Linked DNA regions of Homo sapiens: region 1 is reported to be linked to region 2. The links are microRNA targets in miRTarBase. Many come from high-throughput screens and were not tested one by one. Region 2 holds a microRNA gene; the other region holds the end of a gene's coding sequence.

Evidence for each region. Region 2 holds the annotated microRNA hsa-miR-517-5p (CCUCUAGAUGGAAGCACUGUCU, at 1,647-1,668, opposite strand). A microRNA usually pairs through its seed, bases 2 to 8, with sites in the 3' UTR of a target mRNA and lowers its output. Matches are read on the target gene's strand: a 7mer-m8 pairs with bases 2 to 8, a 7mer-A1 pairs with bases 2 to 7 and ends in A, and an 8mer does both.
Region 1: miRTarBase lists SV2C as a target of hsa-miR-517-5p. Seed matches in the 3' UTR shown: 8mer at 1,827-1,834.

Annotation. Positions count from the first base shown.
Region 1 is chr5:76,324,879-76,328,281 of GRCh38, reverse strand. It overlaps SV2C (synaptic vesicle glycoprotein 2C), which reads right to left. Exons shown (of 13, transcript NM_014979.4): 13 at 1-2,918. The coding sequence ends at 2,735. Among named protein-coding and RNA genes, the nearest start is that of SV2C-AS2, 15 kb to the right of the region's middle. RefSeq lists an enhancer at 2,351-2,850.
Region 2 is chr19:53,739,597-53,742,999 of GRCh38, reverse strand. It overlaps MIR517C (microRNA 517c), which reads right to left and starts at 1,687; the gene lies at 1,593-1,687. It overlaps MIR520H (microRNA 520h), which reads right to left and starts at 488; the gene lies at 401-488. It overlaps LOC124904765 (a long non-coding RNA gene), which reads right to left. Exons shown (of 6, transcript XR_007067334.1): 2 at 733-855.

The DNA.
Region 1 (3,403 bases), not on the chromosome of region 2:
TACAAATTTTCATTTTCCTTCTACTGTAGGCGAAATGAGATGCCAGTTGCGTGTTTAGGTGCCAGTGGCCTGCTACACTGATACAACTGAGAGTTTCTGTTTAATATCCTGGCTGTTTCTTAATCTCCAGCTAAATCTGGAGCAAGCTATACAGGCCACACCACATGCTTTGGAAATGATTTGAGCTCTCTTAGAAAATCAAGGTGATGAACAGTCTCAAGGAGGCAGGGAAGAGTGCACAAAAGGTGGGAGAGGTGGTGACCAAGAAGGTTTGTGACCACAGACTGTCCAGGAGATGAGAAAAGATCCCTCTTAGGCCACCAAGGATGCTTGGATTAGGTAACAAGTAGGCCAAGAACGGTCCTTCTGCAGGGGACACGGATGGCAGGTCTCATGAAGTAAGGTTTTGCTGGTTTATCCTATGCTGACCCAACCCAGTGTTCAAATAAAATTCTGAATAACTGTGCTCTGCAGCTTGGGAGATGTTTTATGCATTTAGACCCCAGAGCAGACATTAGAGATATTTTGAAAAGTAAAGGTAGTCTAGTTAGCAAAGTGAACTATCACAGAGGACTAGAGACAGCGATGCCCATGTACATTTCTATTTTTCTTTTGATGGGTTGATGGAGATGCACTCCTGGCTTTTGCAGTTATTTCTGCACATGCTGCATTCAACTAAAAGACCTGCTCAGGTCCCCAAATGTCTTTTTAAAGAAGACAAATCAGGGAGAGATAGGTGGGAAAATGGGTACATGTGGAAGAAGAAAAACATACAGGGTACTTTCTTGGGTTGTTTGACTGCTGTCTTTGTTCTCCAATAAAATGATAGGAGGCAGAAGTGAGAGAAAGTTGTTTCTTTCCCTGTGCGGTTGGTATCTTTCAAATGCATCTTGTCTAGCCTTCAGTGATTTTTCTTCTTCCTGCCACCTTTGCAGTTTTTGGTTCGGGTTTTCCTGATGTTCTAGCCCTGATCACAGACCCCCAGGGAACCACCCTCTTCCCACTGCCCCCAACACCAGTCTTCCCCCCTCTGCAGACCTGAATTACTTCAAGGGGAAGTCGATTAATGGCTTATGTTAATGAAAGAAGCTTTTCACTTAGTCTGAGCTCTGCGAGGGATCATTAGGAAGGGGAGGGGGAGGCAGGGGGGCCTCAGGGGAGTTAGGACATCTCTGAAAATAATGATCAGTGGAAACAAAAGCTTTCCCTTCCTGGAGGCCCCAAGCTATGGCTTGCCTGAAAATGCCTATAATAAGTAACAAGAATAAACCTCTATCGAGGCAGTTAAAAAAGGAATATTGTTTAAATATGGGATTTATTCCTGGCTTCTGGTCATTGGCTGCAAGTCTACAAGGAAGGTTCAGATTTCAAAGAAGAGGTGTAAAAAGGACGAGCCTGGGGGAAGGGGAGCCTGAGAGGCGAGAAGGTCATGTAGCTGACAGCGGGCCCGTGGGAATGTCCTGGCTGACCTCTTTCTTCCAAGCCCAGGCAGATTCCAGAGGTAAAATGAGCAGTCAAACAACCACAGGGAGATGGTCTGTCTGTGAGAGGGGCCCTCAGGAGTGCAGGCGGGCTGTGATTTTACAGGGAGCCAGGAGCGCATTGAGCAGTGGGCCAGCCCTGGGGAAGCTAGAGGGACAAACCCTCTTTGCTGATGCCAGCTGGGAAGCTGAATGTCAACTGCGGGCCAGGTGGGGTGGGGGTCCTGGCGGGCCAGTCCCACAGCAAAGAGGTACTGGAAAGAGGTACCATTTTGTATTTCCAAATGGCTCTGGGTGTGAATTTCTTCCTAATTTGCAATTTACAATTTAGCTATCCACTGGCAATCTCTAGACTAGAGACAGTGTGGGTAAGTGGCAGAATCAGGTAGGCAGACAGTTTTTAAGAAGCAGCTTTCTTTCCCTGAATCTGCTGTCTGGCAAGACCAAGGGCAGCTGAAGGAGTGGGAGTGGTAAATGGAGGCAGAAGCTCTCTCTCGGATCTCTGATTTTCAAACATTCTGAACCACATGCCACAGTCACAGATACTGTTACAGTTCTTTTTCCTCACACTTTTCAGAGGTTTAATTGGGCTTTCTGACAGAAATCTTGCTTATGCAGCACACTCAGATTTTTGCTGCTAATTGCAGAGCTTTTATTTTTCTTGTCAGCGGTCACCTTAATTGTCTTGCCCCAAAGAGCCCCACCCAGCCCTGTTTGGTGCCACATGGTTTTCTTTGAAAGGCTCTGCTATAACAGTGAGAATTACTGGGTGTCCTTTTCTAAGTAAACAGGAAATATCACTCTGTTAGAAAAAAAAAAAAAAAGAATCCCTCTTCTCAGCACAAATGCAATAATGTGCCGACTTATATTTCCTGTTAATGTTAAATTAGGAGCAGGATCTATTTCTTACACCAGCCCAGTCTTCTTAGCTTCTAAACTTTCAATGAGCAGAACCCCAGGGAAGCCTGGCTGCCTAGGGCATTTTAGAAATGCTTCCACTGATTTGCGGGAGGCAGTAGCATCACAGTTTGGAAAGATAACAATGCATTCAAACAAAACAAAACAAACAAACAACCTGTGCAAAATCACAAAGGGGCAAGATGATATGCTTCTAAATTTTAAGTCACAGCACGTGTTTATGTTCTGATACTTGATCACCTTTCTATATAGGAAAACTCTGAAGCCTTGAGTCAGGAAGGAGAATTGACCCAGGGCAGGAGGAAGAAACGCAGGAAGGATGGCTTTTTTTCCCATTACATCAGAACCTGGGTTCGTGTGTCAGGCAGGCACAGCCCAACGAGTCCTCCACACACGAGCACAGTAGAAGCCAGCAGGATGGGGATTGATTTGGTGATGCTGACCAGAGAGCCAAATATTAAGTTTCCCAGGACGGCTGCTGCCTTGCATAGCGCATTTAAGAAGCCAAAGCCTGTTGCCCTGCAAAGGAAAGAGACATGAACAAGGTTGAGAAAATGCCTCCCCATGATTCCAACTTTAGACCAAAAGATCCTAGATTTTCAATGATCTTCCCTCAGATTGTGTTGTATATCAGTGGAGCAAATCAATGCTTGTTAGCAAATCTGGGAGTAGAGAATCCTAGCTGTTGGTATTGTTCCTCCAGCCCTCTGTTGACTTTCTTACCATAGCTTCCATTGACTCTTACTCTGCCTGTAAGTCCCAATGTATTGTGAACAGAAAGAGAGAAAAAATTGTAGGGAGTACGAAACATCTCTAGTGGTTTAACGTTGTTGGAAGGAAGGGTCTTTTTCATTTTTATAGAGATTAGGTCTTGCTCGGTTGCCCAGGCTGGAGTGCAGTGGCATAGTAATAGTTCACTGCAGCCTCAAACTCCTGGGCTCAAGCAATCTTCCCACCTCAGCCTCCTGAGTAGCTAGGACTACAGGTGCACACCACCATACACA
Region 2 (3,403 bases):
GCCATGGCCCTCCAGACTTGGCAACAGCAAGACTCCACCTAAAAAATAAATAAATGAATGAATAAAAAAGAAAAATACAAATATTAGCTGGGCATGATGTCAGGTGCCTGTAATCCCAGGAAGCTGAGGCAGGAGAATCACTTGAACCCAGGAGGTGGAGGGTGCAGTGAGCTGAGATTGCACCACTGCACTCCAGCCTGAGTCACAGAGCAAGACTCTGTCCCAAAAAGGACCATTTGAGCCCAAGAGACCTAGGTTGGAAGTGCCTCTGTACTCCAGCCTGGGCCACAGAGACCCTGTCTTAGAAAACAAAAAAAACCCAGAACCCCAACATCATCCAAGTCTGATGATAAGCATGCAAATATATTACCAACATCAGCATCAACTTCAACACTGCTTTTCCCAAACAGTAACTCTAAAGGGAAGCACTTTGTTTTTTCTCAGACAACAAACAGAAAGTGCTTCCTCTAGAGGGTCACAGCATGGGATCTTCTTGCTCCAGCACTCTGGGTTTCTTGTTGGAATTTTCCTTGACCAGGTTAAAATACACACAAAATAAAGATGCATTTATTGGCCCTGTTTGCATATTTTCTGGAATCCAGAACATAAACCCCTAAAAGGACCATCTCCAGTTCCTTGCTTCAAAGGCTCAGCAGGTTAGCCTTGTTCACCAAGGGGCAACCCTCCTGAGTTTTGTCCCCAAAGAGAAAAAGCAAAGCCTACTACACATACCTTATATTTAACCAAGAGATTAGGGCAGAATTTCCAGAGAACAGCAATGGATTTTGAGCCAAGTGTTCAGCTGAGTTCCAGGACAGGGGCACACAGTCCCGATGGAAGCATCCAAAATGGAATCTACAATGTTGAAGAATATACATTGTCTCACACACAAACATCCTCCAAGATAGACCACAGTCTAGGCTGACTCTACAGGACCATTTGAGATTAGGGGTGATGGCTCACAGCTGTAATCCCAGTACTTTGGGAGGCCAAGGCTGGTGGATCACCTGAGGTCAGGAGTTTGAGACCAGCCTGCCCAACATGGTGAAACCCCATCTCTACTGAAAACACAAAAATTAGCTGGGTGGGGTGGTAGGCACCTGTAATTCCAGCTATCTGGGAGGCTGAGGCAGGAGAATCACTTGAACCCGGGAGGCCGAGGTTGCGGTGAGCCGAGATCGCGCTATTGCCCTCCAGCCTGGGCAACAAGAGCGAAACTCCGCCTCAAAAAAAAAAAACAAAAAAACAATAATAATTAGCAAGACCTGATGGCAGGCAACTGAATTCCCAATGATTCGGCAGGCTGAGGTGGTAGAAACACTGGAACCTGAGAGGTGGAGTTTCCGGTCAACAGAGATTCTGCTACTGCACTCCCAGTGAAACCAGAGTGGGTCTCAAAAAATCAAAAAATAAAAAGAGGACCACTTGAGCCCAAGAGATCTCGGTTGGAGGTGCCACCCACTCTAGTCTGGGCAACAGAGACACTGTCTTGGAAAAAAAAAACAAAACAAACAGAACCCCAACATCATGCACGTCTGATGATAAGCACGCTCTGCAAATGTGTTACCAAGATCAGCAGCATCTTCAACGTTGATTTTCTCAAACAGTAACACTCTAAAAGGATGCACGATCTTTTCTTAGACAACAGACAGTGCTTCCATCTAGAGGGTCACTGCCTGAGATCTTCTTGCTCCAGTACTCTGGGTTATTTTTTATGTATTTATGTATTTATTTATTTATGTATTTATTTTTTGAGATGGAGTCGCCCAGGCTGCAGTGCAATGGTGTGATTTTAGCTCACTGCAATCTCCTTCTCACGGGTTCAAGAGATTCTCCTGCTGCCGCCTCCCACGTAGCTGAGACTACAGGTGTGTACCACCACGCCTAGCTATATTTTGCATTTTTAGTAGAGAGGAGGTTTTGTCTTGATGGCGGGGCTGCTCTTGAACTCTGACCTGAGGTGATCCACCCGTCTCGACCTCCCAAAGTGCTGGGATTACAAGCGTGTGCCACCGCACCCGGCCTATTTTTTATTTTTTTGAGATTGAGTCTCACTGTTGCCTAGGCTGGAGTTCAGTGGTGCGATCTCAGCTCACTGAGAGCTCAGCTTCCCGGCTTCCTGTGATTCTCCTGCCTCAGCCTCCTGAGTAGCTGGGATTACAGGCGTGTACCACCACCACACTGGGCTAAGTTTTGTATTTTTAGTAGAGATGGGGATTCACCATGTTGGCCAGGCTGGTCTCAAACAACTGACCTCAGGTGATCCTCCTGTCTTGGCCTCCCAAAATGATGGAATCACAGGTGTGAGCCGTGGTACCCAGCCTTGTCCTATACTTAAAATTAGGAACAAAAAAAGATGCCCACACCTAAACAGCAAATCATTTGTTGTTCAAGTACATCTCAAATACATTGTTTATCTGAAATAGAAATTTAAGTGGGGGTGGGGCATGAATCAAAGAACAGTCCTTACTTTCCTCTTCCTGTACATGAGTTAATATTCACATGTAGTCCCAGCTACTAAGGACTGGGGAGGGCCAGAGGCAGGAGGATCTAAGCCCACTTTAGCTTGGGCGGCATAGTGAGACGCCCGTCTCGTTGCATATACGACCTGGTCATGCACCCAAGATTTCAGCTTCATTTCCCCAATGAAAACTCAAACCCCATGCACTCCACCTCCATGCTCTTGCTGAGCAGTACACATCCCATCTGCAAGGGACATTGGGGTCCCCTTCACCTCTACCTGACCCCAAGTGAAGTTCCATAAACCAGTGCCAGAATAATTTCTGTGGGGTAAAAGGTGTTGATGGCCAGGCGCGGTGGCTCACGCCTGTATTCTCAGCACTTTGGGAGGCCGAGGCAGGCAGATCACCTAAGGTCAGGAGCTGAGTTCAGCCTGGCCAACATGGTGAAACCCCATCTCTGCTAAACATTCAAAAATTAGGCCAGGCGTGGGGGCGCATACCTGCAATCCCAGAAAGAGTCAGAGGTGGGCGGATGACTTGAGGTCAGGAGTTTGAGACCAGTCTAACCAACATGGTGAAATCCCATTTCTACTAAAAAAAAAATACAAAAAGTAGCCAGGTGCGGTGGTGTGCTCCTGTAATTCCAGCTAGTCAGGAGGCTGAGGAAGAATTGCTTGAACCCAGGAGGCAGAGATTGCAGTGAGCCGAGATCGTGTCACTGCCCTCCAGCATGGGTGACAGCGAGACTCCGTCTCATAAATAAATAAATGAATTTTTAAAAATACAAATATTATCCAGGTGTGGTGATGGGTGCCTGTAATCTCAGCTACTTGGGAAGCTGAAGCAGGAGAATCGCTTGAACCCAGGAGGCGGGGGTTGCGGCGAGCCGAGATCACATCACTGCACTCCAGCCTGGGTGAGAGAGAGAGACTTTGCTTGCA